Homo sapiens: one gene and its partners. The protein of the gene in region 2 interacts with the protein of the main gene of each other region in a pairwise test. Each region holds a gene or a part of one and is shown on either strand. Other genes may lie near its edges.

Region 1 (3,757 bases), on a different chromosome or scaffold from region 2:
CTGGATGTCTAACATCACAACATAACCTAAATAGAAATCCAGGTATCTGCCCCTCTCCACGAAAAGGCTGAAGCACAGCCACCCAGTCAAATCAGGCCTGGAGCAGACAAACTGCAGTCAACCACAAATCTGTGGGCAAGAAATAAACGCTCATGGTCTCAACCACTGTGTTTTGAGGTGATTTGTTATTTGGCATACATCAATTAGTACTCCATCCTATCTAAAATTGTAACACCTTATCCTGACTTTGATACTTCCTATTCCTCCTCCCTTTTTTCACTCCCTAATACTTACCGCTATCATTCATGTAATTTTACTTATATGCCTTATTGTCTATATCCTCCATTATAAGAAAACAACTTGGGCAGAAATTTTTGTCTATTTGATTCATTGCTGTATTCCCAGAACCTAGAAATGGACCTAGCATCAAGTGTTCATTAAATATACAGGAGATGAATGAATGAACAATTAGCCCTGTGTTCACACCCCGGTATAATTCCCATATTACAAAACTTAGTATTCTGCAAACTCTGCAGTTCTGTCAAAGCTATAATTCAAGTCTTCATTCAGTCTAATTCATCTACTATTACTTAAACCCTGGTTACTAGAGATTATATATTCAGGATAGAAGACAATATGTTCTTTCTAGATTTTTCCAGAAGAAATAAAGGAGCTAGACAGCCCTAAATTTGAGTTACAAGATGCCGAGCAAGTGTTATTTACTTCCATCAGGTGTATTTCTGAAACTATAAATTACGGAAAATATCTATGCAAAATCTAAAGTACAGACAAGTAATAAAACTTTACAGGTGGGTGTGGTGGCTCATGTCTGTAATCCCAGCACTTTGGAAGGCTGAGGCAGGATTGCTTGAGGCCAGCAGATTGAGTCCAGCCTAGGCAACATAGCAAGACCCTGTCTCTAAAAAAAATTTAAAAATTAGGCAGGTGTGGTGGTGCATGCCTGTAGTCCCAGCTACTCAGAGGCTAAAGTGGGAGGATTACTTGAGCCCAGGAGCTAGAGGCTGCAATAAGCTATTAATCATGCCACTGCACTCCAGTCTGGGCAACCAAGTGAGATGCTGTCTCCCCTACAAAACAACAACAACAACAACAACAAAATCACAAAGAGAAATTTTATGCTAATCTTTGAAGAATGAAGGAAGTGGATACTTAATATTTTACCCTAAAAAATACCATGTGTTTCCACAGTATTCTATTTCTCTTAACAGTACTTATTCTGGTTTGTCTATTTCACCAACAAAATCTAATCTCTTTGAAAAAGAACTGGCATTCAATAAACATTTGATGAATAAATGACTATTAGCATTTAAAAATGTATTTACCTGACTGGTTAAAACTATTATACATTTTTTAAGTGAAATGGAGATGTTTACTTTAGCTACTGTCTTTTTAAAAGTTTTTGGTCTATTAGCCTTTACTTTCTGCTGTGAAGAAAAAAACACAAAACAAAACCAAAATATAAAATACATGGCATAAAATAAATGATTTTTATTTAAAAATATACTAAGGAATGCAGCCATAAAAAAGAACGAGATCATGTCCTTTTCAGGAACATGCGTGGATCTGAAGGCCATTATCCTTAGCAAATTAATGCAAGAAAATCAAATACCGCATATTCTTACTCATAAATGGGAGCAAAACGGAAAGAACACATAGACACATACAGGGGAACAACACACATTGGGCACTATCGGAGGGCAGAGGGTGGGAGGAGGAAGAGGATTAGGAAAAATAACTAACAGGTACTAGGCTTAAAACCTGGGTGATGAAGTCATCTGTACAACAAACTCCCATGACACAAGTTTACCTATGTAACAAACCTGCACATGTACCCCAAACTTGAAAGTTATATATATATGGGGGGGGAGCAGGGAGGGAGGGGGGAGGGGAGGGGGGAGAGAGAGAGAGAGAGATGTCCTAAGACTTCAACTTTTAAAAACCTAGGTGTACTAAGACTTCAACTTTTAAAAACCTAGAAAAACAACAAAGTAAATAAAAGATGAATGTATACGGATGAAATTAATAAAGACAACAGTGGTGATTCTGAAATCAAAGAAAAATGAGAATTAATAAAATGAAAGTTGGTTCTTGAAAAGCTGAATAAAATGGACAAACCCTTGGAAAGCCCAACTAAGAAAAAAATATAGATAACATTAGAATGAAAATGGAAATTTAAAACTACTAAGAGATTAAGAGAATTACTGGAATGCTGAATGCAACTTTTTATCGGTAAATTTTTAATATAGAGAAGCAATTATTATGCTAAAAAGCTCTATATCTACAATTAAGGAAAGGCAGAATAAATGATCAGATCCGTAACTATACTAGAAATTCAAGCTCAGGCATGTTAGCTCATGCCTATAATCCCAGGACTTTAGGAAGCTGAGGCGAGCGGATCACTCGAGACCAGGAGTTCGAGACCAGCGTGCGCAACATGGTGAAACCCCATCTCTACAAAAAATAGAAAAATTATCCTGGCATAGCGGGGCATGCCTGTGTTCCCAGGGAGGATGAGGTGGGAAGATAAGCCCGGGGAGGTCAAGGCTGCAATGAGCCGTGATCATGCCACTGCACTCCAGCCTGGGCAACAGAGTGAAACCATATTAAAAAAAAAAAAAAAAAAAGAAAGAAATTCAAATATTTGCTAAATTTCTACCATCTACCACTAAATAAGCTATCAAGCTTAATGATTTTACAAGACAGCTGTGTACAGCCTACAAGGATCAGATAATTTCTATGATTCTTATTATCCCATAGCATAAAAAAAGATGAAACACTTCCAATTTCTTTTTCAATGGTAACATATAATTCAAATTTGATGTGAGAATAAAGAAAAATATTACTGAAAATGCTCACTTATGAACAGGTATATAATAAAATCCTGAATAAAATACCAGCAAATCAAAACCTGAAGCAAAGAAAAACATAGGATTGTTACTACTGTCTACGTGACCTTGGGCAAATTACTTCCCCTTCCTATCTTAGTTTTTTCATCTCTAGAATGGAAATCATAATAGTTCCTACAGCATGGGGTTGTTATAAAGATTAGATAGGTAAGTAGAAAGTCCTTAGGACAGTGCTTGGCACATGGCAAATGCTCAATAAGTGTAAACTATTATTATCCCAAGAACAAAAAGGCAACATAATCCACTGTGTTATAATTTTAAAGTGAAAAATAAAATATATAAATGTGAAAACTGGATAATTTTTGGCAGACATTTTTTAGAATGAAACAGATATAAAAGCCAATCTCTTAAACATGATGAATATCAAAAGCCAATAGCACAAATTATACTGTGTTAAAACACTGTTCATTCTCATTAAATTATGTAAAAAAGCTGTTCAAAGTTAACATGATTTTCCATATTTTGGAGCTTACACTAATGCAATAATGTAAGACAACAAATACTGGAAGGGGTGAGGTAATTATTTGCAGATGATATATAGGCAGAAAGTCTAAGTAAACCAATCTCTATTAGAATAAACGTAATGATAAATAAACATAATAAGAATGGAACAAGACAGTATGACAAACTATATAAAATCTCACTGAACATAAAATATAACCTGAATACTTTTTTTTTTTTTTTTTTTTGAGACAGGGTCTCCCTCCTGTTGCCCACATTGCCCAGGCTGGAGTGCAGTGGGGCAAACATGGCTTACTGCAGCCTTGACTTCCCAGGTTCAGGTGTTCCTCCCATGACAGCCTCCTGAGTAGCTGGGACTACAGGCATGC
Region 2 (3,757 bases):
CCAGCCTCAAGTGCCATTTTGACTAGTAAAAATGGCATTTAATAATTACATATTCTATGCACGTATTTTTAACATATTCTTTTAAAAACTTTGTTGTTTTGCTATTGTTTTTTCTAGCAAGACAGAATGTTTCTCTAACCTAAACTAGTTCTGTACTAGTAAAAGAAAAAATAATGACATACCATTCCAAGTCGAACTTGTCCATGGTGCTCAAATACTCTGTTAAAATTATACAAACATTTTAATGTAATTCCATATACTATCCCCCCCCACAAAAAAAAATACAACTTTCCAATTGACCTCCTTTGTTTTTCTTTTTTTCTAATTCTGATTAAGAATGTCATAACGTGCATTTTTAGTGGAGTAAATAATTAACTTATGGAATACAATACACATAATTATAGGTATTGTAGACAGTCTCTAAAGACCATTTCCTGCTGGGGCAAGGGTAGGTGGCTAGTTCTTTCCCCATAGTCAGAAGGCAATAGGTCAGTTTCCCTGAAACACAGCTAAAATGAAGTACTGAGGAGTATTTATAGATAGAAAGGCTTAAAATGAATATATTTTACCTTTTTAAGATACGTAGGAAGGTTACATACCTTTTTCTCTTTGCCTTGAATAGAATGTCTTCTATTGTAGCTTTAAGTGATCCAGATTCATCTTCTTTAAGAATCTCCCTATAAGTCATAATTATTTGTTTGAAAAGACAAGCTAAAATGATTACTAGCCCAAATGAAATGAAAATATATGTCCACACAAAGATTTGCATGTAAGTGTTCATGGCTGCATTTTCCTAACAGTCAAAAACTGTAAAGAACCTAAATATCCACAGACTAGTGAATGGATAAACAATAATGTGGCATAACCATAGATGGGAATACTATTCAGCAATAAAAAAGGAATGAAGTATTAATACACACTGCAACATGGATGAGTCTTAAAAATAAGTGAAAGCCAGCCACAACAGACCAACTATTATAGTCATGCATCGCTTACTGACAGGGATACATTCTGAGAAATGCATTGTTAGGCAATTTCATTATTGTGTGAATATCACAGGGTATACTTACACAAACCTAGATGGTATAGCCTATCCCACGCCTAGGTTACAAACCTGTACAGCACGTTACTATACTGAATATCTTAAGACAACTGTAACACAATGTTCAGTATTTGTATATCTAAACATACATAGAAAAGGTAGAGTAAAAATACAGTATTATAATATTATGGGACCATTGTCATATATGCAGTCTGTCTTTGACCAAAACATCATTATGTGGCACATGATTGTATATGATCACATTTTTGTGAAATGTCCAGAAAAGGTTAAAATTTGGAGACAAAAAGTAGACTAATGATTGCCCACAGGTGGAATTAAATTAAGATTTAAATTAATTGTAAATGAATGTGAAGGATCTTACTGGAGTGGTTACAATATTCTAAAACTGGTTTATGATAATGGCTGCACAGCTCAGTAAATTATTAATAAAACATCACTGAATTGTACATTGGAAATGGGTGAATTTTAACATATGTAAAATATACTTTAATAAAGTTGTAAAGAAAAAAAAAGACATTGTCTAAAAGAAAAGACAGGGCAATAAAGCTCTCCTTACCATGTTCTTTCATAGCCTCCTTCCCATCGCTTAGTTCTTTCAGGTTCTTCATCCATTTTTTTCAAAACTGTATTTTATTATTCAATAATCTGTAAAAACCATTAGAATGTAAGTTATCTAAAGATGTTTGTTACAAAATTCATCCAATTAAATTTGAAAATTAGACACATATATAAAGTAAAAAAAATGGAATGCCAGGTCATCTTATTCTTTGTATTTTACTCAATAATTGTCTTAAAAATCTTCATAGAACTCCATTTCTCATTTCCAAGAAATAATATGAACTTATACACAAACTTGGTACCAATAAAAATAAGTGTCTTTTTACAATTTGTAAAAGAACAAAAATGCTTTATAGATGTGTCACATGACAAACTGTAGACTTGTGAGGAGTCAGTATGGGCGTAGTTGAACTATTATAGCTGAGTGACATGTGATTCATTGTACTATCTCTCTGTGTATGTCTCAATTTTCTCATAATCAAAAGTTTTTAAATCACATTTATTATTTATAAATGGGTAAATGCTATAGCTCATAATTCAAAAAAAAAGGACACAAAATTAAACATAGTTCTTTGAGACATCTCCAAACTGCTTTCCATAGTGGCTGAACTAATTTACATTCCTACCAACAGTGGATAAGCATTCCCTTTTCTTCACAACCTTGCCAACATCTGTTATTTTTTGACTTTTTAATAATATCCATTCTAACTGGTGGTGAGATGGGTTTGTGGTTTTGATTTACATTGTGGTTTTGGTTTGCATTTCTCTAATGATCAGTGATGTTGAACATTTTTTCATACATTTATTGGACACATGTATGTCGATCCAACAATCCCAATACTGGGTATAAACCCAAAGGAAAATAAAACCATTCTACCAAAAGTACAAGAGCACTCATATTAATCACAGCACTATCCAAAATAGCAAAGACATCACATCAACTTAGATGCTCATAAATGGTGGACTGGATAAAGAAAATGTGGTACGTAATATATCATGGAATACTAGCAGCCAAAAAAACAACGAAAAAAAAACACAATGAAATCCTGTCTTTTGCAGCAACATGGATACAGCTGGAGGCCATTATCCTCATCGAATTAACACGAACAGAGGCCCAACGCAATGGCTCACGCCTGTAATCCTAGCACTTGGGAGGCCAAGGCAAGTGGATCACCTGAGGTCAGGAGTTTGAAACCAGCCTGGCCAACATGGTGAAACCCTGTCTCTACTAAAAATAGAAAAAAATTAGCCAGATGTGGTGGCGAGCACCTGTAATCCCATCTACTCAGGAGGCTGAGGCAGGAGAATTGCTTGAACCCGGAAGGCAGAGAGGTTGCAGTGAGCCGAGATCGTGCCACTGCACTCTGGCCTAAAAAAAACAGCAACAGAAAACCAAAGACGGCATGTTCTCATTTACGAGTGGAAACTAAACACTGAGTACACGTGGACATAACGATGAGAACAACAGACATTGGAGACTATTAGACAGGGAAGGATGGGAAAGAGTGAGGGTTGAAAAACTGCCTATCAGGTACTATGTTTACTACCAGGGTGACGGGATCATTTGTATACCAAACCTCAACAACAAGCAATTTATCCATGTAACCAACATGCACACGTACTCTGTGAAAATAAAAGTTGAAAACAAAACAAAACAAACAAACACAGGCCAGGGCCAGGTGCAGTGGCTCCATCCCTGTAATCCCTGCACTTTTGAGAGGACAAGGTGCGGATCACCTGAGGTCAGGAGTTCGAGACCAGTCAGGCCAACATGGCAACACCCGTCTCTACTAAAAATACATAAATTAGTTGGGCATGGTGGCAGGTGCCTGTAATCCCAGCTACTAGGGAGGCTGAGGCAGGAGAATTCCTTGAACCTGGAGGGCAGAAGCTGCAATGAGCCAAGGTCACACCACTTCACTCCAGCCTGGGTGACAGAGCAAGACTCCGTCTCAAAAAAAAAAAAAAAAAAAAAAAACCAGGCCGGGTATGATGGCTGACATCTGTAATTCTAGCACTTTGGGAGACTAAAGCAGGTGATCACTTGAGGTCAGGAGTTTGAAAATTAGCTAGGAGGTTGGTGGGAGCGGGCCCCTGTAATCCCAGCTACTGGGGAGGCTGAGACAAGAGGACTGC
Region 3 (3,757 bases), on a different chromosome or scaffold from region 2:
AGGGACTTCTGTCATAGTCTGTAGGAGGCAAGGCAGCATGGTTCAGAGGTAGGCCTTTGGAGGCAGAGTGGATGTTTTGAATTGCAGAGGAAATGGTCAGGTCAGAGGGCATAGCTTGGATCACCTGAGACATGGCTTCTAGCTTAAGTCCATTGGCTCGGATGAGGGCTTTTTTCTGTTGCTTCAGGGCCCTGTCTCTCTTGTACATTGGCCCAAACTTATTCCTTCCTCCACGCATTCGGTCGGCCCTTACAGCTGTTGGGGGTGGGGTGGGGGGAAGGAAGGAAAGGTATAAATAAGGTGCAAATTATTAGCATTCTTCAGATATTTAGAAATGTAAATCGACAAGAAGTGGTATGTGTGTGGTTGTTTTCGTTACAATAGCCCACAAAGATTTCCCAAAAAACCATGTCCTCTTTATTTATGAATTCCTTCCTCCAAGTGTGTGTCGTCATCAAAAAAATACTTTGGCCACATAGGGACATATTAACCCTTTTGTGGATGGAGGAGAGTTCATAATTTTTGTTAGACATAGAAATATTTCACATAGGCGTGGTGCGGTGGCTCACACCTGTAATCCCTGCACTTTGGGAGGCCAAGGCGGGTGGATCACCTGAGGTCAGGAGTTCAAGACCAGCCTGGCCAACATGATGAAACCCCATCTCTACTAAAGATACAAAAAATTAGCCAGGCGTAGTGGTGGGTGCCTGTAATCCCAGCTATTCAGGAGGCTGAGACAGGAGAATCGCTTGAACCCGGGAAGTGGAGGTTGCAGTGAGCCAAGATCACACCACTGCACTCCAGCCTGGGCAACAAGAGTGAAACCCCTGTCTCAAAAAAAAGAAAAGAAATATTTCACATTGCTAAGAAAGAGTATCAGTCGTTCTACTAAGAGTATATGCTTTTATTATGCCAGTTCCTTATGGAAACCCAAACTGCTTTGGGGTTTTCTTTTGCAGGGGTGTGGAACTGAGTTACCCAATTTTGGATTAAATTGTGAATACTTTCCCACAAGATACCTTCCTCCCTGAAAGCCATTTTGGCCACCTTGTTGCAATAACAAAAGGGGTGGGGACATGTTCTTGGAAAATCATGTTCACCTGGACTTGATGAGCCCACATCAGATGACCACCAGTTACTGCTTTTAATTTAAGTAGAATTGGACATAATTAAAACAAATTCATTTCAGAAGCTGTCAAGAGAGTCTTCTGCGACAGTGGTGTGTGGAGTCTGCGGCCATGACTAATAAGTTAGTTAGCAGTTCCCTCTAAGTCCATAGTGGCCAATGGCAATTAGACAGAAACTAGAGACCTCTGATAGCTTGTGACATATTGAACTTGCTGGAGGTTAAGTTTTTGAGCTTTTTATCTTGGATTAGTATCACATTAAAAATTTATTGTAAATTCTAAGTATACAGAATATTGCACAAGATTATAAAGAGTTTTTCATCTGGATGATAATTTATTGAATATTCAGTTGTTTCATATCACTCCTAAGGAAGCATGAGCATGTACCACAAGTGATTTACAATTGTGAAAGCTTAACTTAAAAAAAAGAAAGTTTAATTATTTAAGGTAAAGAAATGCAGCCTTATTATTTTTGTTGAAAAGGAATTAAATGACATCATGCAAAATCACAACATTTACTTATCTTCTGAGTCTCTTACTGTATGTAGTAAGCATCTACCACAATATTTTGCTATTTGGGAAATAATAGTGATTGGTAATAAGAAAATTAATAAGCATCAATTATTTCCTTTCATGATCTCTTAAAAATGATACTGACATTAACAGTCCTCATAATAACCAAAGTGGCTACCTCTGTTCGGAAGAAGCGTGTTAGCTATTCAGCAGATTTATATGATTTTTTTTTTTAGTATTTCTATCAAGTATGAGTTCCATATAACAGAAAAGTTCCAAATAAAAATAGCCTGTGCCTCATTGATCAAATAAAATGCACTCTTGTATCTAGCACCATCGGTGATATGTATCCCTGTTATTGCTTTATTTGCAGTATATTTAATCCATGGAAAGCAAGCAGGTCAGAGGCTAGAAAGCAGCAACATACCATAGTAGTCCATGAACTACAAATTATTTACAGCAGTCACATATTAACTTTACTGCCTGCCAATCTGTACATTGTAGTATAGGGTCTGCTCTTTCAACAAAGTTCAAGTGTGGCTTTTCAGGAGCCACTTTCTTGTTCTTTTCAGACCTTTGCTAATGATTTAATAGTTCGTTATTTTTCATGTTTCCTGATTCTCAATTTTTTATTTTGCAGCCTCAGTCATTATCTTTTAAAAAAATACATTTCTACACTATCAAAGATAATATCCTACATGAGAAACTCCTTTTCACCATTAAAGGCTTTAACTCTTAAGAATCATGAAATTAGTAGTTAACACTTGTGACAAGCACACCTCTTTTAAAAAGAATTGAAATCAAACTTTTCCAAGGGTATCTTGATTTAAAAACTCAAAGAATATTTTACTTTTAATAGTTTTACAAATTATTCTTGTTTTCAGTTGGATTGCTTTAGTCTTATTTTCATAACCTGATCTTTTTCCCTTTTTTGTGTCTAATGCATCTGCTCCCCAGACTAAAAAAAAGGGGGTGGGCAGGGGAAAGACAACTAATATTTTAAATTTTTTTCCTAGTAGATTTCACCATGATTAAATGAGACTCAGACTATTCTGCAGATGAAACATAGAAAGATCTTACAGTATTGTCGGTAGTGTTAAAATGCTGGGAAAATAATGTTACCATGCTATAAGTACAATGTTGTTTTACAGTTCATGTCCTTGGAGAGTTTTAATAGGCAGTAGTCTTTAGAAGAATCTTACCTTCTAGCTTCATTCCAACACTTAGACATTTTTGAAAACGACAGTAAGGACAACGCTTTCTCTGTGTTTTGTCAATTTGGCAGTTCTGGTTTTCTATACATGTGTACCTTTTATTATTTTGGACTGTTCGCTTAAAAAATCCCTATAAGACAGAGAAAATAGTGAGACGTATTATAAATCTAACACCCGTCTTTTCCATTGTTTCATTTTAAGAAAATCACCAGTAAATCCTCTCATTGCACTATTTGAGCCCTTATGTGGTTCTGTGGTTTATTTTACATTTCAGCAACATCAACCTTCCCAAACTGTGCCAGGCCATGGTGGAGATTTTTCTGGCATCAGTTTTATTCTTGAAGAATTACGTCAAATCCTGGGGAGATTTGGCTACCCACCATTTTATCCCAACAGTCAGAAAAAATACACTCTATATAGATAAATTTTTTTTTAATCTATTTTCCTATTATCCCACATGTTCCTGATAGAGGTACTCATGAAGTCCTGGCATTGTTTTTAAGTAGTCTGATATAATTTCAGTGATAAACCATTGCAAAATGCCAGTGGAAAAAACTGAATAGCAAAACACCTCAGATTTTTTTTTTTTTTTAACAAATGTCAACACTGGATAGTTAAAAGCAAAAGGATTTAAAGAGTAAAATGGGAAAATGCTCATAATTCCACTGGAATACATTCAAGTATGGGAACTGTTCTTAAAAAGGCAAAACTAATGGAAGGAAAAAGCATGTATCACAGATAGCTGAATTGTAGCACACAGGGTATGAGCTTTCCTTATATTTTATATAAAAGAATTAATCAAAAATAAAATGTGTAGCTTTATAATATGAGATTTACCAGGATAGTATTCATATTTAACCCACTTGCCACAAAGAGAAACATTCTTACTTTGTTATAGAGAAT

What was found.
Region 1: the proteins of GTF2H2C (region 2) and DZIP3 interact in binary tests that used the Homo sapiens proteins (3 or more experiments, as listed by UniProt).
Region 3: the proteins of GTF2H2C (region 2) and NR5A2 interact in binary tests that used the Homo sapiens proteins (3 or more experiments, as listed by UniProt).

The regions. Positions count from the first base shown.
Region 1 is NC_000003.12:108,592,565-108,596,321, reverse strand, and holds part of DZIP3 (E3 ubiquitin-protein ligase DZIP3), read right to left. Parts: intron 1-3,757. UniProt on the Homo sapiens protein: E3 Ubiquitin ligase proteins mediate ubiquitination and subsequent proteasomal degradation of target proteins.
Region 2 is NC_000005.10:69,563,051-69,566,807, reverse strand, and holds part of GTF2H2C (general transcription factor IIH subunit 2-like protein), read right to left. Parts: intron 1,709-3,757; 5' UTR 1,676-1,708; coding exon 1,620-1,675; intron 678-1,619; coding exon 600-677; intron 220-599; coding exon 183-219; intron 1-182. UniProt on the Homo sapiens protein: Component of the core-TFIIH basal transcription factor involved in nucleotide excision repair (NER) of DNA and, when complexed to CAK, in RNA transcription by RNA polymerase II.
Region 3 is NC_000001.11:200,044,670-200,048,426, reverse strand, and holds part of NR5A2 (nuclear receptor subfamily 5 group A member 2), read right to left. Parts: intron 2,985-3,757; coding exon 2,843-2,984; intron 256-2,842; coding exon 1-255. UniProt on the Homo sapiens protein: Orphan nuclear receptor that binds DNA as a monomer to the 5'-TCAAGGCCA-3' sequence and controls expression of target genes: regulates key biological processes, such as early embryonic development, cholesterol and bile acid synthesis pathways, as well as liver and pancreas morphogenesis.